4 separate regions of the Homo sapiens genome follow, and all the other regions are linked to region 2. Evidence: fine-mapped expression QTL. A gene starts in region 2. Each other region holds a variant in brackets. All regions are shown on one strand. Distances are between the middles of the regions.

Region 1 (8,000 bases), 46 kb after region 2:
TGAGGCCCCTGCTCTGTTCCATTGGTCAACATCTCTGTTTTGGTACCAGTACCATGCTGTTTTGGTTACTGTAGCCTTGTAGTATAGTTTGAAGTCAGGTAGCATGATGCCTCCAGCATTGTTCTTTTGGCTTAGGATTGTCTTGGCAATGCGGGCTCTTTTTTCATTCCATATGAACTTTAAAGTAGTTTTTTCCAATTCTGTGAAGAAAGTCATTGGTAGCTTGATGGGGATGGCATTGAATCTATAAATTACCTTGGGCAGCATGGCCATTTTCACGATATTGATTCTTCCTACACATGAGCATGGAATGCTCTTCCATTTGTTTGTGTCCTCTTTTATTTCCTTGAGCAGTGGTTTGTAGTTCTCCTTGAAGAGGTCCTTCACATCCCTTGTAAGTTGGATTCCTAGGTATTTTATTATCTTTGTAGCAATAGTGAATGTGAGTTCACTCATGATTTGGTTCTCTGTTTGTCTGTTATTGGTGTATAGGAATGCTTGCGATTTTTGCACATTGATTTTGTATCCTGAGACTTTGCTGAAGTTGCTTATCAGCTTAAGGAGATTTTGGGCTGAGACGATGGGGTTTTCTAAATATACAGTCATGTTATCTGCAAACAGGGACAGTTTGACTTCTTCTTTTCCTAATTGAATACGCTTTATTTCTTTCTCCTGCCTGATTGCCCTGGCCAGAACTTCCAATACTATGTTGAATAGGAGTGGTGAGAGAGGGCATCCCTGTCTTGTGCCAGTTTTCAAAGGGAATGCTTCCAGTTTTTGCCCATTCGGTATGACATTGGCTGTGGGTTTGTCACAGTTTTTATTATTTTGAGATACATCCCATCAATACCTAGTTTATTGAGAGTTTTTCGCATGAAGGCTGTTGAATTTTGTCGAAGGCCTTTTCTGCATCTATTGAGATAATCATGTGGTTTTCGTCTTTGGTTCTGTTTATATGATGGATTATGTTTATTGGTTTACGTATGTTGAACCAGCCTTGTATCCCACTGATGAAGCCAACTTGATCATGGTGGATAAGCTTCTTGATGTGCTGCTGGATTTGGTTTGCCAGTATTTTATTGAGGATTTTTGCATCAATGTTCATGAAGGATATTGGTCTAAAATTCTCTTTTTTTTGTTGTGTCTCTGCCAGGCTTTGGTATCAGGATGATGCTGGCCTCATAAAATAAGTTAGAGAGGATTCCCTCTTTTTCTGTTGATTGGAATAGTTTCAGAAGGAATGGTACCAGCTCCTCTTTGTACCTCTGGTAGAATTCGGCTGTGGATCCGTCTGCTCCTGGACTTTTTTTGATTGGTAGGCTATTAATTATTGCCTCAATTTCAGAGCCTGTTATTGGTCTATTCAGGGATTCAACTTCTTCCTGGTTTAGTCTTGGGAGGGTGTATGTGTCCAGGAATTTATCCATTTCTTCTAGATTTTCTAGTTTATTTGCGTAGAGGTGTTTATAGGATTCTCTGATGGTAGTTTGCATGTCTGTGGGATCAGTAGTGATATCCCCTTTATCATTTTTTATTGCATCTATTGGATTCTTCTCTCTTTTCTTCTTTATTAGTCTTGCTAGCAGTCTATCAATTTTGTTGATCTTTTCAAGAAACCAGCTCTTGGATTCATTGATTTTTTGAAGGGTTTTTGTGTCTCTATCTCCTTCAGTTCTGCTCTGATCTTAGTTATTTCTTGCCTTCTGCTAGCTTTTGAAGTGTTTGCTCTTGCTTTTCTAGTTCTTTTAATTGTGATGTTAGGGTGTCAATTTTAGATCTTTCCTGCTTTCTCTTGTGGGCATTTAGTGCAATAAATTTCCCTCTACACCCTGCTTTAAATGTGTCCCAGAGATTCTGGTATGTTGTGTCTGTGTTCTCATTGGTTTCAAAGAACATCTTTATTTCTGCCTTCATTTCGTTATGTACCCAGTAGTCATTCAGGAGCAGGTTGTTCAGTTTCCATGTAGTTGAGTGGTTTTGAGTGAGATTCTTAATCCTGAGTTCTAGTTTGATTGCACTGTGGTCTGAGAGACAGTTTGTTATAATTTCTGTTCTTTTACATTTGCTGAGGAGTGCTTTACTTCCAACTGTGTGGTCAATTTTGGAATAGTGCGATGTGGTGCTGAGAAGAATGTATATTCTGTTGATTTGGGGTGGAGAGTTCTGTAGATGTCTATTAGGTCTGCTTGATGCAGAGCTGAGTTCAATTCCTGGATATCCTGGTAACTTTCTGTCTCGTTGATCTGTCTAATGTTGACAGTGGGGTGTTAAAAGTCTCCCATTATTATTGTGTGGGAGTCTAAGTCTCTTTGTAGGTCTCTAAGGACTTGCTTTATGAATCTGGGTGCTCCTGTATTGGGTGCATATATATTTAGGATAGTTAGCTCTTCTTGTTGAATTGATTCCTTTACCATTATGTAATGGCCTTCTTTGTCTCTTTTGATCTTTATTGGTTTAAAGTCTATTTTATCAGAGACTAGGATTGCAACCCCTGCTTTTTTTTGCTTTCCATTTGCTCGGTAGATCTTCCTCCATTTCTTTATTTTGAGTGTATGTGTGTCTTTGCATGTGAGATGGGTTTCCTGAATACAGCACACTGATGGGACTTGACTCTTTATCCAATTTGCCAGTCTGTGTCTTTTAATTGGCTCATTTAGCACATGTGCATTTAAGGTTAATATTGTTATGTGTGAATTTGATCCTGCCATTATGATGTTAGCTGGTTATTTTGCCCGCTAATCAGTACAGTTTCTTCATAGCATCGATGGTCTTTACAATTTGGCATGTTTTTGCAGTGGTTAGTACTGGTTGTTCCTTTCCATGTTTAGTGCTTCCTTCAGGAGCTCTTGTAAGGCAGGCGTGGTGGTGACAGAATGTCTCAGCATTTGCTTGTCTGTAAAGGATTTTATTTCTCCTTCACTTATGAAGCTTAGTTTAGCTGGATATGAAATTCTGGATTGAAAGTTCTTTACTTTAAGAATGTTGAACATTGGCCCCCACTCTGTTCTGGCTTGTAGAGTTTCTGCCGAGAGATCCGCTGTTAGTCTGTTGGGCTTCCCTTTGTGGGTAACCCAACCTTTCTCTCTGGCTGCCCTTAACATTTTTTCCTTCATTTCAGCTTTGGTGAATCTGACAATTATGTGTCTTGGAGTTGCTCTTCTCGAGGAGTATCTTTGTGGTGTTCTCTGTATTTCCTGAATTTGAATGTTGGCCTGCCTTGCTAGGTTGGGGAAGTTCTCCTGGATAATACCCTGAAGAGTGTTTTCCAACTTGGTTCCATTCTCCCCATCACTTTCAGGTATACCAGTCAAACGTAGATTTGGTCTCTTCACATAGTCTCATATTTCTCAGAGGCTTCGTTCATTTCTTTTTACTCTTTTTTCTCTAAACTCTTCTCACTTCATTTCATTCATTTGATCTACAATCACTGATACCCTTTCTTCCACTTGATCAAATCGGCTACTGAAGCTTGTGCATGTGTCATATAGTTCTCGTGCCATGGTTTTCAGCTCCATTGGGTACCTGAGGTCTTCTGTATGCTGTTTATTGTAGTTAGCCATTCGTCTACTCTTTTTTGCATGTTTTTAGCTTTTTTGCGATGGGTTCGAACATCCTCCTTTAGCTCGGAGAAGTTTGTTATTACTGATCGTTTGAAGCCTTCTTCTCTCAACTTGTCAAAGTTGTTCTCTGTCCAGCTTTGTTCTGCTGCTGGCGAGGAGCTGCGTTACTTTGGAGGAGAATAGGTGCTCTGATTTTTAGAATTTTCAGCTTTTCTGCTCTAGTTTCTCCCCATCTTTATGGTTTTATCTACCTTTGGTCTTTGATGATGGTGACATACAGATGGGGTTTTGGTGTGGATGTCCTTTCTGTTTGTTAGTTTTCCTTCTAACAGGACCTTCAGCTACAGGTCTGTTGGAGTTTGCTGTAGGTCCACTCCAGACCTTGTTTGCCTGAGTATCACCAGTGGAGGCTGCAGAACAGCAAATATTGCAGAATGGCCAATGTTGCTGCCTGATCCTTCCTCTGGAAGCTTTGTCTCAGAGGGGCACCCAGCCATATGAGGTGTCAGTCGGCCCCTACTGGGAGGTGCCTACCAGTTAGGCTACTCAGGGGTCAGGGGTCCACTTGAGGAGGTAGTCTGTCTGTTCTCAGATCTCAAACTGTGCTGGGAGAACCACTACTGTCTTCAAAGCTGTCAGACAGGGATGTTTAATTCTGCAGAAGTTTCTGCTGCCTTTTGTTCAGCTATGCCCTGCCCCCAGAGGTGGAGTCTACAGAGGCAGGCAGGCCTCCTTGAGCTGTGGTGGGCTCCACCCAGTTCGAGCTTCCAGGCCGCTTTGTTTACCTACTCAAGCCTTAGCAATGGCGGATGCCCCTCCCCCAGCCTCACTGCCGCCTTGCAGTTTGATCTCAGACTGCTGTGCTAGCAATGAGCGAGGCTCCGTGGGCATGGGACCCTCTGAGCCAGGCGCGGGATATAATCTCCTGGTGTGCTGTTTGTTAAGGCTGTTGGAAAAGCGCAATATTAGGGTGGGAGTGTCCCGATTTTCCAGGTACCATCTGCCACAGCTTCCCTTGGCTAGTAAAGGGAATTCCTGACCCCTTGTGCTTCCCAGGTGAGGCGATGCCT[C/T]GCCCTGCTTCGGCTCACACTCTGTGGGCTGCACCCAGTGTCTGACAAGCCCCAGTGAGATGAATGCGGTACCTCAGTTGGAAATGCAGAAGTCACCCGTCTTCTGTGTCGCTCATACTGGGAGCTGTAGACTGGAGCTGGTCCTATTCGGCCATCTTGGAACCCCCGCCACCTCTTGATACTTTTAAAAATGAAGATATTAGTGCCCCAATTTTTTCTTCTACTTCTCTAACTCCTACTTTGCTTCTCAGTTTTTATCACTTGTACTTTTGTATTGCTGAGAATTAAAAATATCTACTTTGTATTCTGTAATCATAGTTTTTCTTTGTAGTCAGTTGATCTACACATAGAAAATCAGTAAAATATTTATTATGATTGTATTAAAATAGTTGATTGCAGGACCCAGATTACATTTTCTGTGTAATTTTTTTGGAGTTTCTAATTGCCTTCCTTTTTTCCCCCCATCATTTGCCTTTACTACATATTTGAGTAGCTTCATATCCTCAAGGATACTACTCCATCTCTGCAACCGTCTTTTCCCAGCTCCCACATACCTGCTCCAGGAGTTTGCTGTTCTGCTGCAGTCTGAACAGATTGCTGTCTGTGCTGCTGCCCAGTGGCCTGGGGCTCCCTGTCATTCCAATCTTGGGCTGAAGTCACTGTTTCCTCAATCCCATGTCTTTGACTTTCTTGTTTATTCACTCATTTTGCTGCAGCATATCCTCAAATGATACCTAAGAAAGCGAAGGAGGTAAACTGAGTCTGTTGAAAGTTCTGAAGATGTTTTTATTCTCAGACTATCTGGTGGTATCATTATCTCTACTGGTGGCATATGGATATGTAATAACATTTAACCAATGACTATTGTTATGTGTTTCAGTGTCATAGGTAACTTTGAGTGAATATCCATATATCTTCTCATTTGTGCACATGAATAATTATTTTCAAAGAATAATTTTGTTGAGTGGAATTCTTGGGCAAATAGTATGTGTGTGTGTGTGTGTTTTTTTTTTTTTTTCAGACAAAGTCTCGCTCTTGTCCCCCAGGGTGGAGTGCAATGGCGTGATCTTGGCTCACTGCAACCTCCACTTCCCGGGTTCAAGCGATTCCCCTGCCTCAGCCTCCCAAGTAGTTGGGATTACCGGCACCTGCCACCATGCCCGGCTAATTTTTGTATTTTTTAGTAGAGACGGGGTTTCAACATGTTGGCAGGCTGGTCTCAAAGTCCTGACCTCAGGTGATCCACCCGCCTCGGCCTCCCAGAGTGCTGGGATTACAGGCATGAGCCACTGCGCCTGGCCTAGTATATGTATGTTTTAAGGATATTGATTCATTCTGCCAAAATTCTCTTCAGAGAACCATTGTGTAACTGGTTCTTTTCATCAAGAGGCTGCTTGGTTTCTGTTGTTTGTTTTATTTTTGTTTTGTGAAGACTGCAGTTAACAGGGATCAGGAACTCTGAAAAGGGTTGGCTAGAAGAGTCTTTACCTGAGCAATGTGGAAATGATACTGGGAAAGAAAATAAACATATACTGTCTGTAAATATCAGAAGGTTTATATGAAAAAGAGATTGGATTCAATTAAGTTTTTTGGGTTGTGAGGATCAGAAGTAGGACAGGCAGGTGGAAATCTGAGAGAGCAGTATAGTTTTGGAACTTTTGAATAGCAGTCCCAGGTTGCAGTGAGCTGCTTACACTTCTCACTATGGGGTAGTCCACCCTAAGCTGAGGGCAAACTGGAAGAGCTTTTGTGGGTGGGATTTAAAAATCTATGGGTAATAGAAAGTAGGTAATTTTCAGAGGCCATTTCAACCATGCCACACTGTGGTATGATGAACATAAAGTCATCATGAACACAGTTAAGTTTAGGTTGGATGAAATATATTATAGTTGTGCAAAGTGAGATGAAAAGCTGACAAAAACCATAGGATCAATAAAACAGTTTAGTTTACCCTTAGAAGTATTAATTTTCCTTTTCATCCTGGATGCTTTTCTGCAACAAGTAGAAAGTAACAACTACTTTTGGAGGGTGATTTGTTCACGTAAGGTTATCTTTTATAGTAAAATAGCAGTGTTCATTAGTAGTGCATCCAGTCCTTCCTGACTGTAATGATCTGTCTAATCATCCATTCCTCCCCATCATCCAGGCCTGAACCTTAGACCTGTGTGGTCACCCTTGCATCAGTAACTAGGTGTGAATGATTGCACCTAGGCAGGAAGGAATAGGCCGTTTTAGGCCTTGTCTTTATAATAAGAAAATTTACCTTGTTCAGTTGTTTTTTTAGAGACAAAGTCTCACTCTGTCACCCACGCTGGAGTACAGTGGTGCAGTCATAGCTTGCTATGGCCTTAACTCCTGAGCTCAAGTGATCCTCCTGCCTCAGCCTCCTGAGTAGCTGGGACTATAGGCACACGCCACCATGCCTGGCTAATTAAAAAAAAAATTTTTTTTGTAGACGTGGGGTCTTACTATGTTGACCAGGCTGGCCCAGAATTCCTGATCTCAAGCGATCCTCCTGCCTCAACCTCCTAAAGTGTTGGGATTATATGCATGAGCCACTGTACCTAGTTCTTTTTCCTCTTTTGAGTGCCTTCTCTTTTGAGTGCCGCATACTGATGGCCATCAGTATTTTTCCTGATGGCCCTCAGTATGCGTCTCATTTTATTCTCATGTCAGTCTTGCTATAAAGATGGCATTGTGCCCATTTTACAAAAGGAGAAACCGAAATTTAGATTAGCTTTGCCCCAAGTTGCCACCAGAGCTAGGATTCAAATCCTGCCCTCCATACCACAGGCGTATTGTCATTAACTGTCTCCGCCTCCCAAAACTTAATTGCTTTTAACTATCCCTGCCTCCCAAAATGTAATTGCTTAATTATAATAATAATTTGCTCAAATAGAGGAAGTTTTAAAAAGTTTGCCAATAAATATTTCTGGAAATTCTGTCAGCATTGGGATATAGTGGTGGTATCTGTTGGGAAATGCTGAGTGTTGGGAGAGAAGCTGAGGCAGGGCTTGCATGTCTGACATAATGTAAGAGAGTCTTGGAACATGTGCGGGGTCCAGGGTCTAAAACCCCTTGTGGCCTTTGGAACACCAAGCTCTGTGCCAAAGGGTGGAAGGCTACCCTGACGCACGGTAATCTAAGCCCAGGGCATAAAACCGCTCGTGGCTTGGATAGAATCCAAGGCTCCTGGCTCTGGAATGTGTCTAGACTTGCTGGCTCCTTGCTCCTTGCTCTCCCAGGATCGATTGTATCTTGAGTTAAAAGAACCTGCTCTCCATTATCTCAAGTAGCAGAGCATATGCTAAACCATCACAGCTGTAAATCATGTGCTTAATGTAACGCTCCCTTTCGACCCCCACATTCT
Region 2 (8,000 bases):
GAAGACAGGTGGGGAGAAGCAGGGCCGGGGGCTGATGGCACTCATTGATGTTTTTTGTTATAAGCCTTTAAGAATTATTTGATTTTTCACTTATGTGTGTTACTTTCACTAAAAATAAAAATGCAAACAAAACAATACACATACATTGTAGAAAATATATCACATATAATAAAATGCGCAAAAAGAACATAAAAAGATGGCCAGAATCTCATCCATCCAGAAAACTGAGTGTGCCTGTAGTCTCAGCTATTTAAGAGGCTAAATGGGGAGGATTGTTTCTGTATTTTATGGGCTGCCTCCATAGATGCCTGGGAGTTAGAGGCTGTCATGTGATATGGTATCTGTGACTGGCCACTGTACTCCTGTACCCCAGCATGGGCAGCATAGCAGACCCTATCTCTTAAAAAAAAAAGTCTCACCCACCCAGAAATAACCACTGGTAATATCTTGAAATAGTTTCATCTGAAAACAAATGAAAGTACTTTTAAAAAAACCTTTTGGTTTGTTTGTTTGTTTGTTTAGAGACAGGGTCTCACTCTGTTACCCAGGCTGGAGTGCAGTGGTGCAATATCAGCTCACTGCAGCCTCCAACTCCTGGTCTCAAGCAATCCTCCTGCCTCAGTCTCCCAAAGCACTTGGGATTACAGACATAAGCCAGTGTGCCTGGTGAAAGTATTTTTAAACACTTATAAAACTACAAACACTCTTAATACACTAAAACTACCAACACAGGAAAAAGTAGTGCTTGGGGTTATTCATTTTTTAGTAATTCAGCCTTTCTGATCAAAATGTTTGGCGTCATTTAGTTTGTATCTTCACTAACAGAGCAGAGTGGAGAATTAAGGCAACTTCTCAAAATATTTTTGCTTTAATTATAATTTTTAGAAAAAAAACAGCTTTTGGTCTTAGTTTTTCAAACAATTGGTTCTATTCAGAAGATTAAGAATTTTGGAAAATAAATTCATCAGGAAAACTTACTTCATTTAAAACAGTTTTTGGCTGGACATGGTAGCCTGTAATCCCAGCACTTTGGGAAGTCGAGGTGGGTGGATCACTTGAGGTCAGCAGTTCGGGACCGGCCTAGCCAACATGGTGAAACCCCGTCTCTATTAGAAATACAAAAATTAGCCAAGCATGGTGGTGCATGCCTGTGATCCCAGGTATTCGGGAGGCTGAAGCACGAGATCTGAAACTGGAAGGCGGAGGTTGCAGTGATCCGAGATGGCACCACTGCACTCCAGCCTGGGCAACAGAGCAAGACTCTGTCTCAAAGAAAAAAAAAAAAGAGTTTTTGTATTTGTTGCCCATTTCAAGTGTGGATAAATACTTTCATTTCTCTGATCTGTTTGCTTGAACTGTTTCAGTGAATAACAATATAAAAAGTGCAATTCGGTCTTTATACATCCCATTTAAAATGCAGAAAAACTTCATATGGTAAATACAGAATTCTGAGAAAGTATCCTTGGAAAGGGAATATTGGTGAAACAATTAATAATACAGATTTAATGAACTGGATATATATATATACACATTATATATATATATATATAATATATATGTTTGTTTTTGAGACAGAGTTTCGCTCTTATTGCCCAGGCTGGAGTGCTATGGTGTGAGCTCGGCTCACACAACCTCTGCCTCCCAGGTTCAAGCGATTTTCCTACCTCAGCCTCTCGAGTAGCTGAGATTATAGGCAAGCACCACCATGCCTGGCTAATTTTTTATATTTTTAGTAGAGACAGGGTTTCTCCATGTTGGTCAGGCTGGTCTCGAACTCTCAACCTCAGGTGATCTGCCCGCCTCAGCCTCCCAAAGTGCTGGGATTACAGGCGTGAGCCACTGCACCCAGCCATGAACTGGATATTTTTAAAGAGATTAAGCTACCCTGAATTTTTCAGGAAAAAATACAGTTGATGTATTCTTCTACCTCCTAAGGTCACTGAGTTTTAATTAGCTTAAAACTTGCAACATTCAACTACTATTTACTGAATTCCTCTCATAGCTCAGGCCTTGTCCTTGATATATTAACTTATATGTTCTGTACAATCTCAAAAACAATCTTGCAGTTTTCATGAGGCATTTGTAGAGGCCTAATATGAAGGAATATAGTGGGACATAGAGTATAGTGGATTTCTGTGGGTTTACCTGGCTTTGGTTACTGCTGTTGGTGTTAGAGAATTATGCATATCAAAGATAATGATGGTGCATTTATCAGGAAAGAACAGAGCTACTATCAGCCACCAGAGACTAGCATGGGAGAGTTTCTGTAGGAGGTAGTGTTGATACAGACTCTTGAGAGGACACTGTGAAATTGGTATTTTCTGGGCTGACTTCACAGATGTTCACATATAACCATCCTGCCCACAGAGAGTTATGAAATAGCTATGTGAGTGCACAAGGTAGCTATTGCGCAAACCAAAGTTGTCAGGTACTGCACATATTGTGAAGGGACTATGATGGGACACCGTGTGGTTCAAAGAGCACTGGAGCCCTGGTACATCCTGAGAGTCTTGGGGAGAAAAAGGGGAACACGCATTTGGGGGCCTGAAAGATCTTTCTCTCTGCTTGACTGCAGGGCAGGTTTCTGTCCCTCCCTGTTCTGTGGTATAGATTTTGTCTTTTCCACATCAGTCCAGGTCTTCAGAGTCACTATGAATTATTATTACCATTTTAAAGATGAAGAAATTGAGCCTCAGTGAGGTTCAGTTAGCTAAAGGCACACAACTCTAATAAACTGACAGAATTCCAGGTTCTGATTTAAATTCTATTGCCCTCTCTTGAAAATAAACATGGACAGCTTATATGAGCTTTTGTGTATATATTTTCTGGTCTAAATCTGCGGCAGATATGTGTGTCTTTCTGCGCATGTATATAGTAGATCAAATATGTTAGCTCTATTGACATTTCTTAGAAATAAATATCCTGTTATCAATGATAGTGTTTACAAATTATTTATTTAGAACTTACCTCTTTTCAAGAAAAGGCCTTGTGATTGCTCTCTGCGAATTATAATGCATGAGTATACCTCTTTGTTATTTTGTTTTGTTTCAGACAATTATCTCTGGTTGATGCAGATCACTTGGAGGCTTTTGGGGCTGTATATAACAGGTCAGAACATCTATTTAATGTCAAACTTTATCTACTAGGCAACTTGGAATTCTCAGCCAGCACCAAATATTCAAATCCAACTTCCACACCCCGACAACAGAGGGGTTCCGGGTGTAGGTGTAGTGCTGGTGCACCCATGAGGGTGTTTTTCAGGAATTCTGGAGGTGGTGCTGGAGAGAACACGCTTCTTCTACACGCGCCCCCTACCAGTTTGGTATGCACCTGCAGCCCCAAAGAAGAACTGGCGGGACTCGAGTGTGGCCGTGTCAGACGTGGCAAGAAAAACCAGCAGTTGCCTTTTCATCTCTTTTCTGATGATCTAACCATGAAGTCCCCAGTATTTGAGCATTTAAGGCAGAATGTAAATTCATAATTTAAGAAGATTTTTTGTTACGTGGCTAGCCCAGGTACTGACCGCTGCGGGGGCGGGCTCACACAGTTCCCCCGCTGGCAAGTTTTGTGACTTGCTTTGGAAAACCCGGGAATTGCACCCTCTGCCCTTGGCAAGGTGTGAGCTTCCAGGATCTCTCCGCTGCGACTTCGGGTGTTAGGGTTTTTGGGCTCTTTCCGGGACCCAAGTTCCAGGGCAAGAAGGTCTGCTCGGCGGCCCGCCTCGGGGCCCCGCCCACTTTGGCCAGGGTCGGAGCCGCCCGGAGCGGGAGCCGGAGCCCGAGCGGCCGCGGCCCCTTTAAGGAGCAGCTCTGCGGTAACCCGAGCCCGCAGTCCGGGCGGGCGCGACGGCCGCCGCGGTAGCTGGAGCCTCCGCGACTGCACCTCCAAGCGGCCCGGAACCCGCGGCTTCCCTGGCTCCCGTGAGCATCTCACCGGGCGGCACTGGCCAGCGCCAGCCCTCGGGCCGGCCCGGATGAGCAGACTCCTGTAGACACCCGCCGCCCTCTCCCGGCTCGGCGCAGCCGCCGCCCGCGCGCGACTCGCCCCGGGACCCGGCACAGGTGACGCCGTTTGGAGGGGGGGTTGGGGAGGAAGGCGGGCTTGCCTCGCCCCGCGGCTCCCCCGCGCCAGCCGCCAAGCGCAGCCCGCGGAGAGGGGTGCCGCGGCTTCCCGCCCCTGGCCTAGCGCGGCCGAGAGCTCCTGCGCCTGGAGGCTGGGTGGGCGTCCGGCGCGCGGGAGGCGGCCCGGGGCTCCCGGGCGGGCTCCGGCAGGTGTGTGCGGAAGGCTCAGCATCGTCCCCGCCCGGCGGGCCACGGCGTCGCTCCGGGAGCAAATGGTGTCCCGGGGCCCGCGGCCCCCGCGCCGCCCGGGCGCCCCGCATTCCTCTCGCGTTTCTCGGGCTGCACGATTCCGGCTGCCCTGTCTGCCTGGCGGTGCCTCTCGGGTCTGAGCTTAAAGCGGGTGGGTGCAAACCTTTGGGCATCCAGGGAGAGCTTTCTTGTTAGAGCCCACACACAATCGGGCGCATCAAGTGGGTAAGTCCCCCTCCCCCGCCGCCACCTTCTGAAACAAGTAGCTCTTATTTACCCTTGCAGTTCTCAAGTGGGTCCCATTTTTAGCCACTGAGTGCTGAAAAGTCTAGTGGGAAGGGACCAGGCGTAGAGTCGGAGGGAGAAATTGGTTTCTATTTCCATCTTTACCTCTGTAACCCCTAAGTGCCTCGGTTTACCCAGCCATGAAATGGGATTCGTAATGCCAGCAGTTTCCTACCCCTCCAAGACGGCAGAAAAACCTCTGTGAAAACACTTTGAGTCTAAATTCATTTAAGAGTCGCTGTTGCTGGTCTGTATATTTTTAATTGTACACACATTTGAGTGTTAATGTGGTGCACACTTTTATATGAAATTATGAAATTTACTTTAAAGACTGATCTTGGATAATGTTTAATCCAAATACCAGTTTGGAGAAGATGGAAGAGTTTGTGTGGACCCTAGGAATTGATGTGTGAAATAGGAAAAAAGATTTAATAAAATCTTTACGCAGTCATAAATGGAGTTGAGAAAAATTGACCTTGGATTGTGGTGTTTTAAGTGAGTTACTCCCGTGCCAGCGCATGGTGTCGATTGAAATGTAGCTTCATCTTTGTGTAGCCGATTAAGGTAATAAGTTAGAGAATCCCAGCTCCCTTTTAATTGTGCTATATATGAGGAATTTTTATCCTTGCTTATCTTTTCCTTAAATTGGGCGAAACGAAATTAGAAAAGTGTATTCCCGCCGTGTTAGAAAATATGAAAGAATGGGTGAAGAACCATGGATTTTAGTTTATTTGCCACGCCCCTCCTGTGCCATCTGATAACCCAGAGAATATTTTGAGGGTGCTTCTTTTTTTTTCTACGCCTGCAACTCCTTTTGTCCCATTACCTCCCTCTGGAGTTTGAATCTTTACTGTCCTCATCCTTGAGATGAATTTTATCTGTTTAGGCTGGATGCCTCTGACCCAGCTGCCCAATCAGTCATTATTTATTTACAGTATTAGATTTCCATTTATATTCATTTCACTCTAAGCCTTCTTTACCCTGGTGGAAAGAATAATGGGTCTTTGCTACTAATGCTTTATACTTGGAGGTGAACTAGGAATGGCATGCTCAAGGTGCTGAGACTAATGCAAACCCCAGGGAAGCTAGGTCTTCACTGGAGTCTTCTGAATAGGTCCTGGAGTACAGATGCAAGAGTTGGCCTGTCTTTTCCTTGATTTTCTGAAATCTCCACTGGGTAAATTCATCTGATTGCCAAGGGAAGTCTTATGAGCAGGGAGCTATCAGAAATCTGAGTGTTAGACTGATTAAGAGCCTTCCCTGCAAAAGACTGGGGAGAAAGAAGTAGTGGCTTTGTAGGTGTTGGAGAGTCCTCCCTGTAACCAGATAACTAGTAGGAAGTAAAGGATCCCTAGATTCCCAATTGAGAAATGGGAAAGGGGCTGGGTTTCAAAAGGGAAGTGGCACAGCTTCTAGGCAGGTTTGGGAATGTACCTGAGGTTTGATGGGCCCTTCTCCCTCTTTCTCTTTGAGAGTGTTTCTGGCTCCTCAGAGTCAAGCACAGCTGTCTTAACAGTTTTCAGACCTGTTTACTCTCCTCTTTGGTGCTCTAAAGGAGGCCCAGCGTTCATGTTCCTCTCTCAAAGCTGGTCTTGCATGTATTAGAGGAAAATGGGCAGTTTAGTTTGTAAGAAACTCTTTAGACCTCAGTGTCTCTCCCCACCCTTCTTTCCAAATTAGTCCCACATCCTACAGATTAAGGATTTGTTTGGGCTTCAATATCTCAAACTGGGATACTCAGTTTGGCTGAGAAGAGTAAACTGAACAGTCTACACTAAGATATGAAAAGCTAGCTTTTCTGTTAAGGAAGATAATGAATTAATTGTCTGGGTGAGAATTATGGGCATTTGGACAAAGGAGGGCCAGACTGGGGGTGGAGTTGTGCTGGACAACTTGTGCCCTCGTCCTTGAGAGAGGAAAGGATACCACCAAACTAGTGCAGTCACCCTGTTGTGCTTTTTCTTCTTCCATTTGCCTTGAGAGAAGAAGAAGATAGCAGTATGGAGGTGGAGTCACCATCTGTTCTCAAGGATGGGAAACAGACTTTAACTGAACATTAGGAATGAGCTGTATTCACCTGGCATTGGTATCAGGCGCTGGATGGATTACACCAGAGAATACATTACATTAGGAAAGTAAGGCTAATTTTGTAAGAAAGTCTAGGTATTTCCAGAGTGACTTTAGTGGTATTTTTTCTTGTTGAGGATGAAAGGTTGCACACAAAGAAATGGAGGCCTACTGCTCTGAGGCTTGTTATTCCTGGTGAGACAGTTGGATGTGCTGCAAGCAGATCCCAGACCTGATCAGGCAGGATAAGGCAGGAATAGCAAAAGGTGTTTCTTTGTTCAGAACATTGGTCTGTTCACGGAGAAGGCAATGGATATATAAGAAGGAGCTTCTGAACTGGTGTAAAAGGCCAAAGCTTTTGAAAACAGCCAACGAAGAAGACACGTGGAAGGCTGTTCAGAGCTTGAGCCAGCACTGGAGGAAGGGAGTCCCAGACAGCGGGACCAATATCATGGGTGGAGTTTGAGTAGGTGGACAAACGCTTGTCTAAAGCAGTGTTTCAAACATTTTCAGACTACAACAGTACAAAATGCATTTTTACACTGAGACCCAGGGCATAGCAAGTATATGTGTATGTGAAACTAGTTTCTATTTCTATTGAATTTCTGTTTCTAGTCTGTGTTCTTAAAAACTCATAACGTGTTAGTGGATCACAGTCCACTATTTGGAAACCACTTTTCCAATGGGTAGAAAAACAGGTTGCAGTGGAGCAGGCTGGGCGGAGGGGGATTGGAGATACTGGAGGAGGTGTGGGGAGCATAGAATTGATTGAGCACTACCTGGACCCCTGTCGGTGGGAGAGAAGGCAGTGTAGAGACTCATCTTGTGTCTGACAGGTGCAGAACTCACATAGATGAAATGATGGGACAGATGCAGAAGAGGGGACTTTCCACCAGTTCTACTTACTTCAAAGCAAAATGATTGGCTTTAAGGAAAAGGAAACGTGCAAGGAGTGAACTTGGATATGTAAGCACATTTCTTTAGAGCAGTAAGATTTTCGTCTGTACGCTTAATGAGGAGACAAAAGGACCCAGAACAAATTGGCTGATGAATTCAGGTCATGTCCACTTTCATGGCCGGATAGGGAGCAGAGGGGCTAGTAGTGCAGGGAGGGTGAGTAGGAGGCTCACACCTCCCCTCACAATTTTGAGAAGTTGGAGCAGAAGCAGCGGATGGAATGTGTTTTGAAACCCCATTTGCTGATCAAACTCATTAGGAAGTTGGCTGCTTGCCTCACAGAGAATTTGAAAAGTATTCTTTTTTTCTTTTTGAGACAGGGTCTCGCTTTGTCACCCAGGCTGGCGTGTAGTGGCACAGTCTTGGCTCACTGCAACTTCC
Region 3 (8,000 bases), 22 kb after region 2:
GACCCACTGAGCCTGGCCTGCTCTCAAGTTTTCAAGTTTTTTTTTTTTATTTTTTTTTAAGAAATCTTGTTCCCAAGCTAACATTACTCAGCCTCTTAGCTCTTTATGACATGATAAGATTACCATCTTTACACCACTCTAAGGGTACTTTGGTATGTAATTAATTGGGAGTATATGGGACTGATGCTTGATCAAAAGATGCACTTCCACTCTTTCTGAGTATAAATGAGCCTGAAATTTGTTTTTTTTTGTGTGTGTTTAGTATTGTTGTTATACTGTTGTCTTTCATTGATTTGTGTCACTTACAATGCTAAGGTCTTGTGTGTATGGCTATTATGCCAAGTCCTATACTTTGGTATTGCCTTTAAAAATTTTATTATATTTTGCCTTTATGATTTGGATTCATTATTTCAGCTAATCAAGATAATTTCAAAACCTGATTCTGTTAACTTAATGTATTAGCTGTCTTTCCCACCTCTGTGTTGTATGCAGCTTAAGTAAACATACAAATATTTACAAAAAATATTTGCTAAAACAGGACCAAAAAAGAGAAAATTGTATAAAATATCAAGAGATATTTCTCAATTCTACTTTGGATCATTAATTTACATGCTGCTTCTAGTTTTCAGCTAGCTCTTGGGCTCACTAACTTTGTTGATCTAGCCACTTTTTTTGGTATTTTTCATAAGGCTATCATGAGAAACTTTCAGAACTTTGCTGGGATCAAGGTATCCTTCACTTGGTATTCTCCAATCTACCAGGATTTGTTGGTCAGTTATTTGTGGAGGTAAGGTATAGGAAGGAATCCAGGATGACTGAGCTGTTCCAGGTTGGAAGATGGGGCAGTATTGTGGATGTCCATGTCATTCATTGAGGTATGGCACCACAGAGAAGGGCTGGTTGGGGTTAAGTTCAACTTGGGCGAAGTAGAACCTGTGGGGCCTCTGGATGCACAAATGGAGCCCATCCAGAGGGTGGCTGACCATTCAGGGCTGGTACATGGCGGGTGGTGAAATCTAGTTGCACACAGTATAAGCAGTGTTGGAGGTGCAGGGCGCATAGCCAGGCAGAACCTATAGTATGCAGAGAAGAGGTTCAGGTAGTGGGGGTTGGGGGGAGGTAGTAAACATTGCCAAGTTAAAGGTGTTTATGCCTGATCGCCTTCATTTTCTTGGTCAAATGGGAAGAAACCTCATCTATTTTAAGAGGGAGAACTAGAGATTTGAGAGCGGTGAATATTTGGAGTCAATGTGGGAAATAGGAAAGGGAGCTTGCCAGGGATGGGAAAAGGAATGCTAAGCATAATTGGGGCATTCTTCCCAGCTTCCCCCTTCTTTGCTGCCCTTAAAGACAAACACACAGACCCATCCCCTTCTTTTTAGGGATTTTTACTGCAAAACACTCCAGCAGTGGTTCTCACTGGGGGATTATATCAGAAAATGAAGGAGAGGGGTTATGTATGTGCATGGAAGTGGCACTGGTATTTGATATATTCTCTAAGGAATCCCTGTATTTGCAAAGGAATCACAAATGGGGGAAATGAGTGAGTGATCGTGTTTTGGTGGGGAGGGGCTGGTAATCCTAACCTCACCTACTAGAACTGAGTCTGTTTTTTCTAAAGTCAATTTCCTTTAAAATTGCCCCTTCTTCCCCTCATCCCCTCTTCCTTCTTCCTCTCTGTCCTTCTTTCCTCCTCCTCTTCTTTTCTCTTTCCCTCCCTCCCTCCCTTTCTTCCTTCTCTTTTTTTCTGAAACAGCGTCTTGCACGGTCACCCAGGCCTGAGTGCCCTGGTACACAATCATAACTCACTGTAGCCTCCATCTCCTGGGCTCAAGTGATCCTCCCATCTCTGCCTCCTGAGTAGTGGGGACTACAGGAATGTGCTACTACACCCAGCTAATTTTTCTATTTTTTGTAGAGACGGGGTCTTGTTAATGTTGTCCAGGCTGGTCTTGAACTCCTGGCCTGAAGCAGTCCTCCTACCTGGGCCTCCTAAAGTGCTGGAATTACAGGCATGAGCCCGACTGAGAACTGAGTCTTTTGGGCTCCAGCCTAAAAGCATCTTATTGGGATTTTAATAGAAGAGAAAATGTCCTCTTGGTTTACTTTTGGATACCTCCTCACTATTATGTGTTACCTCTCCTGGGTATTTATTCCTTGGAAAGCAGGGAGCATTCTCTTAGCACCCTACACTTACCACTTTGTGTGGTGAGGATCAATTTCTTTGTATCCCTACTGGCTATAAGCATGTCTCCCTATTTTGTATTCCAGCACAGTGCCTGGCTCATGGTGGACCAGAGACAGATGGATGGACTGTTTTTTGATGTGAAGACTGAATTAGCCCTGGCAGTGCTGTTTCCCAGGGCCCTATCTCTGGGAGTCCTCCTGCTGGAAGGGAAGTGCTCTCATAGCTGATAGTTAAGACATGTACAGTCATGCATTGCTTAACAATGGGGATACATTCTAAGAAATGTGTCCTTAACACAATTTTATCATTGTGTGAACATCATAGAGTGCACTTAACACAAACCTAGATGGAATAGCCTACCACACACCTAGGCTTTATGACATAACCTGTTGCTCCTAGGCTACAAACCTGTACAGCATTTACTGTACTGAATACAGTACAGTACTGTACTGAATACATTGTGTAGGCAGATGCTACACAATGCCAAGTATTTGTGTATCTAAATACTACATTGTATAGTATTTACTGTACTGAATACATGGTGTAGACAGATGCTACACAATGCCAAGTATTTGTGTATCTAAATTCTACATTGTATAGTATTTACTGTACTGAATACATGGTGTAGACAGATGCTACACAATGCCAAGTATTTGTGTATCTAAACATAGAAAAGGTACAGTTAAAAAATGTAGTATAAAAGATTAAAAATTGGACTAGGCATGGTGGCTCATACCTGTAATCCCAGTGGTTTGGGAGGCTGAGGTGGGAGGATCACTTGAGGCCAGGACTTTGAGACCATCCTGGGCAACATAGTGAGACCCAGTCTCTACAAAAAAAAAAAAAAAAAAAATGAGCTGGGTGTGGTGGCTATGTGGGAGGCTGAGGCGGGAGGATCACTTGAGCCTAGAAGTTTGAGGTTATAGTGAGCTATGATTGTGCCACTGCACTCCAGCCTGGATGACAGAGTGAGAACCTGTGTCAAAAAAAAAAAAAAAAAAAAAAAGATAAAAAATGTTACACCACCTCTGTGGAGCAATTACTGTGAATGGAGCTTGCAGGACTAGAAGTTGCTCTAGGTGAATCACTGAGTGAGTGGTGAGTGAAAGTGGAGGGCTAGGACATTACTGAACATTACTGTAGGCTTTATAAACACTGTACACTTAGGCAACACTAAATTGATTTTAAAAATTTCTTTTTTCAATAAATTAACCTTAGCTTAGTTTCTTTTTTATTTTATAAACTTTTTTATTTAAACCTTTGATTTTTTTTTTTTTTTTTTTTTTGAGACAGTTTCATTCTTGTCACCTAGGCTGGAGTGCAGTGGCGTGATCTTGGCTCACTCCAGCCTCCGTCTCCCAGGTTCAAGTGATTCTCCTGCCTCAGCCTCCTGAGTTGGTGAGACTACAGGCATGTGCCACCATGCCTGGCTAATTTTTTGCATATTTAGTAGAGATGGGGTTTCACCATGTTGACCAGGCTGGTCTCGAACACTTGACCTCAGGTGATCCACCAGCCTCGGCCTGCCAAAGTGCTGGGATTACAGGCGTGAGCCACTGCACCCAGCCTTTGATTCTTTTTAATAACACTTATCTGAAAACAAACCCATTGTATGGCTGTAGAAAAAGATTTTCTTTATATCCTTATTTTATAAGCTTTCTTCTATTTTTACAATTATGTTATTATTATTTTATTACTTTTTTGTTAAAAACGAAGACTCAGACACACACATTAGCCTAGGTCTGTCAGAACCATCAATATCATTGTCGTCCACCTCCACATCTTGTCCCACTGGAAGGTCTTCAGGGATAATAACACACATGGAGCTGTCATCTCCTATGAGAACAATGCCTCCTTCTGGACTGCCTCCTGAAGGACTTTCCTGAGGCTGTTTTACAGTTAATTGTGTGTGTGGTTTTTTTTAATAAATAGAAGGAATACACTGTAAAATCATGATAAAAAGTATAGTGTAGTAAATGCTTAAGCCAGTAACATAGTCATTTATTATCATTGTCAACTATTATGTACTGCACATAATTGTATGTGCTAGACTTTTATATGACCGTCAGTGCAGTAGGTTTATTTACACCAGCATCACCTCAAACACGTGAGTAATGTGTTGCGCTGCGGTGTTATGATGGCTACAGCGTCTCTAGGTGATAGGAATTTTCAGCTCCATTATAATCTTATGAGACCACCATTGTATATGTGGTCTGTCATTGACTGAAACATCGTTATGCAGTGCATGACTGTACTTCAGACCTTTTCATGTTTTTCCCTACTAAGAAATCAGTGTCAATTAAAGTTTATGTAAACCATCTT[T/G]AATGAAAAGTATAAACATTATTTCATTCAACAGGTCTCTGGAAAAGTTTCTTTGATGTCCACAATTCCTGTGAATCAAGATGGACTAATTATAATGTAGAGTTCATGTCTAGACGCTCTTGTAAATTGCTACAGAAGTATTTCCCTTATCTGTTTCAGCTGCTCTTCGCTAGGCCAAATAGTATCCCAGCTTTCTGCCAGCTACTAGCTACCTGTAGAGGTATATGAAGTAGGTGTGCTTTTCCAGTTTTACTGTATATTCCTATACTTAATAATCACCAAACTCTTGCAGGCCCTTAACATATGTTAGTAATGAGCATCCTTTGGTTTTATCACTTTTTACCATTTTTCTTGCCTGATTCATGCATTAAAGTGAATGAACAGGGGTAGCTGCTTCCTACCAGAAGCCTTGGTTTTCTGGGGAAATTTGTAAAGATCTCTAGATTAGTTCTTGATTTGGCATGACTGATTAAGCAAGCAGCTGTTCACTAAGAGGCAAAGCTGAGAGTAGAACAATTTAATTGGCTTCTATCTGTTGAGCTTTTAATGGAAGTCACAGCTTGAATATATGGAGCTCTTTATTTAGTTTTAAATGAAACATTTTTCCAAAGGGAGACTCTAAACATATATCCCAAAGTCTTACCTGATAATAATTCTGTTCAAAATATAATATTCATCCATTAGAACAAAGACTTAAAAACTCGATTTTTGGGCGAGGGTGGGATGATACATTTTTTAATGGTGAATTGTTTGAGTGCTTTTAAATACAGTAGTTAAATGAACAATTCATAAAATGGATAAGGTATGATATGTTTTATGACACCTTTTAACATTCATGAAATAAATGCTTTGTATACATTGAATTTTAACAAACTAAATGAGCAGCCCGTGCCCACCTTCTGCTCTAGGATCAGCAGAGAGCATACGAAAGTCTTCAGGGGAAACCTCCTCACATTTAAGATTAGATTCTCCATTCTCTTCTGATTACTGATTATATTTTTTTTCCAATTTTGTGTCCATCTGGCCTCCAGATACCTATTTGCTTTAATCTTAGAAAAGCATTATTCTCCTTACATCCCACTTAGCAAATTATGGTAATGCTTAATTTATGTACAAAACTTTTATGTATTGTTTGGTTAATATTAAACCTAGGCTAAAAGACCACAAATTAAAATTTTAATACCCAATAAACATATGTTGAATTAAAAAGAAGTAAAAGAGCAGTAAAGTTAATGGAGTCTCATAGAGAAGAATTGTAATATCAATATTTTTACCAAGTACACACACACACACACACACACACACACACACACACACACAAAGAATGAGGAAAGAATTCATTATAGACATATGAATTCTGATGGAAGGGGCCCTGTGGGAGATTGATTCTTATTACGATATCCTGGTTGGAAGGGAATGAAGTGGGGTTATTGCTAGTGCAGTCAATGACTTGGCTTTTCTCTGGTGAATTGATTTCAGTAGGTGACTTTATTTCTTTGCATTAGGCAGCTGGAAATGTGTATTGATTTATTTCTTTTTCATTTGAGAATCAGCTTTATCAAAGATGGAGCCATAGAAATGCTGTATTTGCTGGATATGAGCAAATGCCTTAGTGCCTTTTTTTTTTTTTTTTTGCTCTGAATGTTCCTAAGATTTTTAGGAGCCAAATAAAGTTCAGCTCAATGAAATAGAAAACACACTTTGAGTGTGCATATATGCATAGTACTATTCTTTCTGCTAACTCGATTGTTAAGACCTGAAGCTCTTTTATAAAAATCTTTTTTTTTTTTTTTTTTTTTAATAAGGGATACAAAGCCCTGCAGGCCTTTTGCTCCAAGAATGTGTGTGATTGAAGAGCATGTTTTAAAAGTTAAATTCTCATTTGTGCAGTGACGGTGTTAGCGGTGGAGGGTGTTCAGGTTCTTGGCATTTTGAACAAAGAATTAGACAAAATGCACAAAGCAAGGAAGGAATGAAGCAATGAAAGTAGCGATTTATTAAAAATGAAAGTACACTCCACAGGGTGGGAGTTGGTCCTACCATAGGGGCTCAAGAGCCCGGTTACAGAATTTTCTAGGGCTTAAATACCTGCTACAGGTTTCCCATTGGCCACTTGTTGTACACCCCATGCAAATGAAGTAGTGGCCCACAATCTAGGCCGGTTGTGGTGCCTCACGCCTGTAATCCCAGCACTTTAGGAGGCTGAGGTGGGCAGATCACGAGGTCAGGAGTTCAAGACCAGTCTGGCCAACATGGTGAAACCCCGTCTCTACTAAAAATACAAAAATTAACCGAGTGTGGTGGTGCGTGCCTGTAATCCCAGCCGCTCGCGATGATGAGGCAGCAGAATTGCTTGAATCCGGGAGGCGGAGGTTGCAGTGAGCTGAGATCTATCGCACCACTGCACTCTAGCCTGGGGGACACAGCAAGACTCCATCTGGAGGCGGGGTTGGGGGCGTGGCGGAGGGGAGGGGAAGTTACACTTCTGTGCAAAGGAAGACTTGGCTGGCAGTCAGTCAGATTGGTTGGGGAAAGCAACCAATCAGAGGCTGAAATGAAGTTATAAAGTTATACTCCTATGTAAACGTCTGATTGGTTGCGGAAAGCAACCAATCAGAGGTACTTTCAGTTTTCCATTTGCCACTCAGAAAAGTGAGGGAGGGGTTTTCAAAGCGAGTAACCTCCAGTTATTTTGTTAGTTAGGTGTGTAAAGTTGGGCTTTTCTGTTTGATTTAGTTCTAGGAAGTCAGTATGAATCGGCCTTAGGTTCCCTGCCTCCAGACCCTATTGTCTTGCCTCAACAGTGCAATGGCTCTTTGCTAAGACTGTGTTCTTCTTAAGATTTTAATTTTGTTTTAAATGTTGTTTGTCCTGCTCCAAAATTAGTTTTTTAATTATGGAATTATTTTTTGTTTTGTTATTACAGGCAGTGTTAGTTCTATGGTTTTTGGCTTGATTGTTTCTTAGAAATTATGTAACCAACTCTTTCATATCATAGATGAGAAATTGAGGGATAAAGAAATCGATTTGTCATAAATTTAATTGAAATATTATTAGAAGAATAGTTTTTACTTATAGTACTTGAAATTCTCTGTTAATATTAAGACTTAGATAATTTTGAATATCATGATGTTAAAATTATAAATGACACCTCTAATATTGAGATCTTTAAGATAAAACAGACATAAGATACATGACAAATAGATGGTAAAGGTGAAGAAATATACAAAAGGTCAAAAATTCTTATAGTTTATATTCTTAACATTTGTTCTAAATTTTAAAAATTACTAAAATTACAAGACATATTTCTTAAAATAAAAAAATTACTCTAGGTTTATTATGAGACAACAATTTATAGCTGTCATTTATCTTAACAGGTTGAAGAAATATGGAGATCAACACAAAACTGCTCATCAGTGTTACCTGTATCAGCTTTTTCACCTTTCAGCTTCTTTTCTACTTTGTAAGTTACTGGTTTTCAGCAAAAGTT
Region 4 (8,000 bases), 140 kb after region 2:
GCATTTGTGGAGGCTGGCAAGTTCAAAATCTACAGAGTGAGCTGATAGGCTGCAGACTCAGAAAGAGCCCTGTTGCAGTTCAAGTTTGAAGACTCTGAAGATGGATATCCAGGGAAAAGCTAATGTTGCAGTTGATGTCTGAAGATAGTCTGCTGGCAGAATTCCCTTTTACTTTGGGGTGGAGTTGGAGGGTGGGGTCAGCCTTTTATTTGATTTGGGCTTTCCACTGATTGGAAGAGGCCTGATCACATTATAGAGGTGGATCTGTTTTACTCAGAGTCCACCAATTTAAATGTAAATCTCATCCAAAATACCCTCACAGAAACAACCAGAATAATGTTTGACCAAGAACCAGGCCCATTCAAGTTGCCACATAAAATTAACTATCACACCTCTCAAGAAATATCCTGTCAGTTGCTTTGCTTTTAGAGGTGAGGAATGTGGCTTTCAGTTCATATCTGCTTAACTCATTGCCATCTCTTCCCTACCATGTTTTCATTGCTATAAAACATTAAATACTGATATGAATTTGTAGTAGCATTGGTAAGACAGATACCTTTTACAAAATAAGTTAACAACTTGACAAACTGTAGTTTCTTTTGGCTTGAGTGACTCCTCTTGAGTCACAACTAACCATGATAAGAGATTCCACAAAAAGCTACATTTCTGCTAGCCTAGGAGCATAACAAATGTTGACTGAAGGACATATATTGATTTTTTTAAAAAGTGAGCTCATCTGCTTTGGGATATCGCTCCAAAGCTGTAAACTTGTGTTTGCTCAGTTCACTGTTGGCAAGACACCCTGAAGTAGTTATTAGGAAGGAATTCAGGAATTGCACTTTTATCTGTGTGATCCTTCACCTGGTGCATTTCTGGTGCTTCTGATAATGCTGCTCCTTCATCACTAAGGCATGGTTAGCCTCTGCTAATCTTTAGCAATAGAACTTTCATGCAACCAAGAGAGCTATGCTGTAAAGTGCTAATGATTTACCAAAATTCCATGCATGAATCTCTTGATTCTTTGAGAATTCCATCCATTTTCATAACTGTCATTATTTCCCTCTATGTAGTTGAGTCTCAAATTTACATCTCAGGTCCTGACCTCTCACCTGACCTCTAAACACTCATTTCTAACTCTCTGCCTCACATTACAACCTACATGTCCTGCCAACATCTTAAATCCATTATGATTAAAGTAAACCCATTAATGATCTAATTTTTGTTATTGTTGACTGTTGAAATTACTATTAGGCTTCCAGGATTAATCTTGGATTTTCCTTTGACGTCTTCCTTACTCTCTTACATCCAGTTAGCTTCCAAGTATAGTTTGTAGTGATTCTTATATTCACCCATCTTTTCCATTCTCATGGCCACCACTGTATGTAAGTGGCCAGGACTATTGGAGGTCACCAAACTGGCCTTCTCACCTCTGTTCTTCCACTTATCCCATTCTATAGATTGTTACAGTTGATAATCCCTCATCTAAAACTGTTGGAATTAAATCTGTTTTTAGAATGAAGATTTTTCTTTTTAATTTTTGCATTTTTAGAAAGGTAATATGGTTGTACCATATATTTTAAAATCTACCCAATGGGGCTGGGGCAACATTCTGTAATCAAACACAGTTATTTCTTCAGTGAAACACATGAATATTCACATTAAGATAAATAAAGAGTATAAATGTTCTCACTTTGATTCAGGTTAAACTTGGATGCTAAATGAATTCAGATTAGGCTGGCTTTTTAAGGTTTCAGAAAAAAACCTTAATATTTTTGGTTTTTTAGAACTTTTTGGATTTTGGAATTGTGAATTAGGGATGGCAGACCTGGACTAGATAAATCTTCCTCAAGTAGTAGTATCACTCCCGTTTCCTACTGAATTAGTTGTAAACTCTTGAATCTGGTATCTTCAAATGCCTTCTCAATTTGACCCCACATCATTATTTTCTGGGTTTATTTTCCACTCATTCTCTATGTAGCCTTTTTGCCTCAGCCAAACTGTATAAATATTGCTTATTTTTCTTTCCTCTGCATATAATCAAATTTGTCCTTCTTCTTGAAATGTTATTTTTTTCTTGTGCATTCTTCTACAAACTGTCTGTTGACATCTTTTCTATATTTGCAGAGCTGTTTCCTGTATAAAATGCTTGATCCCTATTTTGGGATCAATAATTGTTCCTTGGTCTGAATTCTTGTAGCAAGCCTCAGTTTTGACATATGTACAATCAATCAGAATAATACCCCTTTCTTACCTCTTAGACTTGTCATTACACTAAATAATGTACAAATGCCTCTAGCACGGTGTCTGACATGTAGTAGGAACTCAATTGACATTGATTATTCCCTTTTACTCTCTTCCTCCTTCCTTTCCTTTTCTTAGTATATGCTGTACTTTATGTTATCATTTTAAATGTACTTTGTTCTTCCCATTACTAGATTGGAAGTTTTCGAGGGTAGGACCTTACTTATTGGAGGCACAGCAAATATTGAGTTATGTGAAATGAATACAAATTGTGTTACTAGAGAAAGTTAAATTCCTCTTCTGGATTCTGGAAAGACATTGGTTTGTCTATGTATGAATGTACATTGAAACTTCAAACAAAACAAAACAAAACCTATGATGACAAATATAAGTCTTCAAAATCTCCATCAATAACATTCTAACTGCCAGAGATCACCCAATATGACCTTCCATATACTTTCTCTGTTTCAAATATTCTTTGTATTATTATTTCCTTCTCCTTCCTAATCTGGAGACAGAATGGTTGTCTTTTTTAAGGCAAGACCACTTGCCTATACATACTTGATTCCATCCTCTGTCTTCTCTGAGATTTCATAACATTAATTCTCTCTTGCATTTTTAATCTTCAATAATAAAAATGCTCAAATATTTCCTCTTATAAATAGCATCCTCTCTTTGATTCCCACTTTGTTTTGTTCATTGAACTGATATCTATTATGTTATTATGTCATCGCCTCCCATGCCTCTTTAAAAAATTGTGTTGTGAAATATAACACTCATACACAAATGAATAAGATATAATTGTACAGCTAAAGAAATTATTATGAAGTAAAATCTGTATAAATACCACCTGTTCAAGAAATAGAACTTTGCTAGCATCTTTACACTTCCCAGTCTCAACCCCCTGAATTGACCACTATTTGGATGTTTATGGCAATCATTTCCTGGTTCTTTTTTTAATTTTACTACCTAAGTAAGCTAACAGTATAATTTAGTTTTTTAAATTTGTTTTTAAATTCTTTATGATAAAGTCTGATCTCTTCTGCTCAGTCTTGTATTTGTGAGATTCATCTATTTTATTGTTTATAGCTATGAGGCATTCATTTTCATTGTTGTATGAAATATTCATATAGCCCAATTTATTTATCGAGTCTACTATAGATTGTTATTTGTCTAAATATTTAAATTTTTTGCTATCACAAATGGTAGTGCAATAAATGTTGTTGTAGATATCTCCTGGTACATGTAAATATGCATTATTGTTGAGTATATAACTAGCAGTGTGATTACAAGGTTTTAGTGTTTGCATATTTTCAACTTTACTGGATGATGCTAAACTGTGTTCCTAAGTGGTTGGGGCAATTTACACTCCTGGCAATACTTGGTACTGACAGTCTTTTTAATTTTAGTCATTACAGTGTGTGTCTAGTGGTGCTGGATATTAATAATATTGAGCACATTCTAATATATGTTAGCCATTTGGACATCCTCTTTTGTGAATTGTATCTTCAAATCCTTCATTCATTATTCTACTGGGCAGTCTGTTGTTTTCTTATTGGGTGTAGAATTCATTATGAATTCTGGATATGAGCCCTTTGTTGGATATATGTATTGCAAGTAGCTTCTCTCACTCTGTGGTTTGC[T/A]TTTTGTTGTGTCTTTTGATGAACGGAAGTTCTTTTTTTTTAGTAATATGACTGTAAAAATAAAATTCATTTTTAGGTTACAATTTGATGACTTTTGACTCAAGTACACATCCGTAATCATCAACCACTACTCCAATTGTTGGGTCCCCCAATATCGTCTCTGCTTTCTTCCTGTGTCCTGACCAAGGAAAACAGAATGCCTTGACTACTCTGTGACCTGGCCAGCTACATGTTTTTCCTGCATCCTTGAATCCAAGCTAGGGCGTTGAACATTCCCCACTACTGATAAAGCTGTTTAGGTTGTTGCTGGAAACACAGAGATTGATTATGTTACTATACACGTAGAAGGCGTCCACCTTCGGAAAAATTCTTTAAGCTCTCACATAAACTCCATAACCTGACCCCTCATTGCGGACATACTCAGGAAGAACATCTCCCCCTCACTGTCGCTCAGGCGGACCTGCTGCAGCCTCCTCCTGTGTAACTTGTAAGTTCCCCTAATAAATGCTTCAGATTGGTCACTCTGGAGTTTAGTGCTTCCTTCTCTGAAACCCAAGCAGGCCCAATCTCAGGAAGGTTTGGGACGGTCCCTTGAAGGAGTTCCCCTGCCACCATTCTTGGGGTGACTCCAGCTGCTGAGTTTGGCCGGAGAGAAAACCAATCTACACGTACAACCTTTCCACCTTTCCGCCTCCCCAGAACCTTTCCACCTCTCCAGAAAGTTCCCTCAGCCCCATTGCAGTCTCCTCCCCTCCTCTTCTTAGGTAATCACTGTTTTGATTTCTATCACTGTAGATTAGCTTTGCCTGTTCTAGAATAAAGGTGTTATTGAATAATGTGTACTCTTCTGTGTCCAGCTTCTTTCACTGTCTGTGATTTCATCTACATTATGTTGTGTATTGTGGTTTGTTCCCTTCTATTGGTGGCCAGTAGTCCACCATATAAATTTATTTAGCCATTCACCTTTGATGGATATTATGAATAAAACTGCATAAATATTTAGGTGTAAGCCTTTTTATAGATACAGATTTTCACATCTTTTGGTAAATATCTAGGAGTGGAATTTCTATGTCTGTTTAACTTTATATAAGAAATAGCCAAATTGTTTCCAAAGTGGTTGCACCATTTTACGCTTCCATTTGCAATGTACTAGGTTGGTGCAAAAGTAATTGTGGTTTTAGTCATTACTTCCAATGCAAAAACTGCAATTCCTTTTTTTTTTTTTTTGAGACTGAATTTTGCTCTTGTCACCCAGGCTGGAGTGCAATGGCGCGGTCTCAGCTTACTGCAACCTCTGCCTCTCGGGTTCAAACGATTCTCCTGTCTCAGCTTCCCAAGTGGCTGGGATTACAGGCGCCCACCATCAGGCGTGGCTAATTTTTGCATTTTTAGTAGAGACAGGGTTTCGCCATGTTGGCCAGGCTGGTCTCGAGCTCCTGACCTCAGGTGATCTGCCTGCCACGGCCTCCCAAAGTGCTGAGATTACAGACATAAGCCACTGCGCCCAGCCAAAAACCACGATTACTTTTGCATCAACCTACCTATGTTCCAGGCGCTGCATTCCTTCACCAAAAATTGGTATTGCTATTCTTTTTCATTTTAATCACTCTAGTGGGTGGGATATTACACCAAGGTTTATGTTTAGTTATCTGTAGGTTTTCTTAAATGGTCTGAAACAAGTAATTACCTCAGAATAAAATATTTTAGGAACCAATGCTGGCAGGATTACATCTTATAAAGAGGATATTGTTCACCAGTTTTGGTTCTGAGCAATCTTGAGCTAGTCCAGTGCTGGTGTGAAGTGTGCTAGTGCTTTTTTTTTTTTTTAAATCAGGATGCATCTTGATGGTTGGTGTCATAATTTCTGTTTCAGTGGTCTTCTGAATGTCCAGAGCCACTGTAAGGGGAATTGCCTATGCAGGCCATGCCAAGTCTCAGAGCATAGCAGAACATATTATAATACTTCTGGTGCAGTAACAGGCCACTGTGCTTTTGGGGGTCCCTTTCCGGAAAGTAGCGGTCAGAATGATTGACAAAGGCCTTCTGCACAGTAAGATAAGGTGCTCACTTGAATGGAACCTGGGTAGTGGCAGGGCACTGACTTTCTTCATAGATCATTCCCTGAGACTCACTCTAGGTGGTCTATGAATACCACCTCGCCTTTGTCCGCCTGGTCCTTTCAGATTGGTTCCCCTTATCTTCAGGCTCTACTGTCTCACCCTCTCAAAACAATTCCTCTAAAGGCTCTTAACCCACAACCCAGAGAAAATTATGTTCTCTGGTGGGAGAAAAGCTAGTGGTGGTAGAGATCAATAGGTGTTTACATAGTTTCCATTTTAACCTTCCTTTATAGTAATGAGCCCCAATTTCTACCTAGGCACAGTGCCATTTAGAATAAAATCCATATTTTTTAGATTTCCTTTAAACTAGGCAGGGCCATAAGACCAAATTCTGGGTCTTGAACATGACTTCCAGGAAGGCTTCTTGAAGGTGCTGGCTCACTGGGCGCTGTCTCTTTTGCTCTGCCCCTTCCCCCGCCCCCGGCATGTGGACACAGTCCCAGACATTCCAAAGGCATCTGGGATGATGAGGTGAGCTTGAGGGTGAAAGTGGAGCGGACAATAGGAATTACCCTCTGAATGTTTTTTTATGTGAAAGAATATAACTTTGCGGCTTTAAGCCACATTTTAAGTTTTCTATCACATGTCATCAAATCTAGTCCTGATGTACATATATGAAATTTGGAACCTATTACAAGTAACAGAGTATAAAATGTGACTGACTCTGAGTCATTCCAAATCTATTATTTATGGCTTAAACTTTTTGTCTAGAGTTCTTAGAAACCTAGATTTTCTTAAAGTAAGCTTTTGAAACATAATATCCAAGAATTTAATTTTTCTTTACCTGTGTCCAGCTTTAACAACCCTTCTTTGTTGCAGTGAAGGTGAGATGGACCTTATGGTTTGGGCTGAAGAAAAGATACAAAAAAAAAAAAACAAAAAAAAACACAAGAGGAAAAGACAGATAAGTTAATATTTTAAAATACCATCCCATATCATATTAAATAAATATTTCTTCGACTATTTGTAGCAAAATATCACCTTAGCACATTCTCAGTTTATGTTCCCATGTTACTAATAAAGTACAAGGCAATTTGGCATGCTTTTTTGTTATGATAATCTGTTTCCTAGAATTATTACTAATAATTATTCATAATTTCCATGGTGTTAAGATAGTATACTCAGAATGGCGCTAAACTTTTTGCTCTTATTTCTCCTGAAGACACAGATTCCTATGAAAATAACACACAAAGGGGGCAAAAAGGAGAAAAATCTGCTGTGAATTTAATTTATGGTCACTTCTTGGTTTTCATTAGGCCCACTGCTGGATTTACCTTATCAGGCCACAAAAATGTGAATTCCCAAGAAATCCAAGTAGAAAGAGAATAGAGAGAAGGGCAGAATACATTTGATTTCTTTAAAGTTAGAGCTTTGTTCTAGGCCCTCAAGTATGAAGTTATTTAGATCTATTTATAAATCATCTATGTATCTATATTGATAAACCAACTCCACGTGCAAGGGAGCATCTCAGTTAACTTTGAATGAATGAGGTTCCCCATGATCCAAAGGTCAGTTCCTTAATTAGCAAGGCCTTTTTGGAAACATTTTGGAGATGAAATATTTTAAAATGTTTTAGTCATGTGTATTAGTCTGTTCTCACATTACTATAAAGAACTACCTGAGACTGGGTAATTTACAGAGAAAAGAGGTTTAATCAGCTCTGAGTTATGTGGGCTACATAGGCTTCTACTTCTGGGGAGGCCTCAGGAAACTTACAATCATAGTGGAAGGTGAAGAGGAAGCAGGCATGTCTTACATGGCCAGCATGAGAGACAGAGACAGAGACAGAGACAGAGAGAGAGAGAGAGAGAGAGAGAGAGAGAGAGAGAGAGAGACAGAGAGAGAGGAAGTTCTATGCTCTTTATAACAACCAGATCTCGTGAGAATTTATTCACTATCACAAGAACAGCAAGCGGTGAGTCTGCCCTCCATGATTCAATCACCTCCCACCAGGCCCCTACTCCAATACTGGATTACAATTTGACATGAGATTTGG

Which allele goes with the higher level. Positions count from the first base shown, and alleles are read on the strand shown. Sizes are in standard deviations (SD) of each study's normalised expression. Not every link is listed here.
For the expression in subcutaneous fat of the gene that starts at base 3,799 in region 2, allele C in region 1 goes with a higher level than allele T (moderate effect, 0.68 SD a copy in GTEx).

Evidence for each region. PIP is the estimated chance that this variant, and not a neighbour inherited with it, causes the effect.
Region 1: its variant is fine-mapped to the expression of TLCD4 in subcutaneous fat (GTEx, PIP 0.96).
Region 3: its variant is fine-mapped to the expression of TLCD4 in whole blood (INTERVAL, PIP above 0.99).
Region 4: its variant is fine-mapped to the expression of TLCD4 in lung (TOPMed, PIP above 0.99).

Annotation. Positions count from the first base shown.
Region 1 is chr1:95,159,835-95,167,834 of GRCh38, forward strand. All of the region lies in intron 5 of TLCD4 (TLC domain containing 4), which reads left to right. All of the region lies in intron 5 of TLCD4-RWDD3 (TLCD4-RWDD3 readthrough), which reads left to right. It overlaps RWDD3-DT (RWDD3 divergent transcript), which reads right to left. Exons shown (of 4, transcript NR_125949.1): 4 at 3,385-5,364. Among named protein-coding and RNA genes, the nearest start is that of TLCD4-RWDD3, 46 kb to the left of the region's middle. The variant C/T (reference allele first, on the strand shown) is at 4,631.
Region 2 is chr1:95,113,557-95,121,556 of GRCh38, forward strand. It overlaps TLCD4 (TLC domain containing 4), which reads left to right and starts at 3,799. Exons shown (of 7, transcript NM_152487.3): 1 at 3,799-4,061. TLCD4-RWDD3 (TLCD4-RWDD3 readthrough) reads left to right here and starts at 4,367. Exons shown (of 8, transcript NM_001199691.1): 1 at 4,367-4,535. RefSeq lists cis regulatory regions at 183-412, 2,024-2,551 and silencers at 3,806-3,952, 3,880-4,159, 4,240-4,289.
Region 3 is chr1:95,136,004-95,144,003 of GRCh38, forward strand. TLCD4 (TLC domain containing 4) reads left to right here. Exons shown (of 7, transcript NM_152487.3): 2 at 7,888-8,000. The coding sequence starts at 7,899. It overlaps TLCD4-RWDD3 (TLCD4-RWDD3 readthrough), which reads left to right. Exons shown (of 8, transcript NM_001199691.1): 2 at 7,888-8,000. The coding sequence starts at 7,899. Among named protein-coding and RNA genes, the nearest start is that of TLCD4-RWDD3, 22 kb to the left of the region's middle. RefSeq lists an enhancer at 1-254 and a silencer at 809-1,001. The variant T/G (reference allele first, on the strand shown) is at 4,511.
Region 4 is chr1:95,257,197-95,265,196 of GRCh38, forward strand. No RefSeq gene overlaps it. Among named protein-coding and RNA genes, the nearest start is that of RWDD3, 27 kb to the left of the region's middle. The variant T/A (reference allele first, on the strand shown) is at 3,885.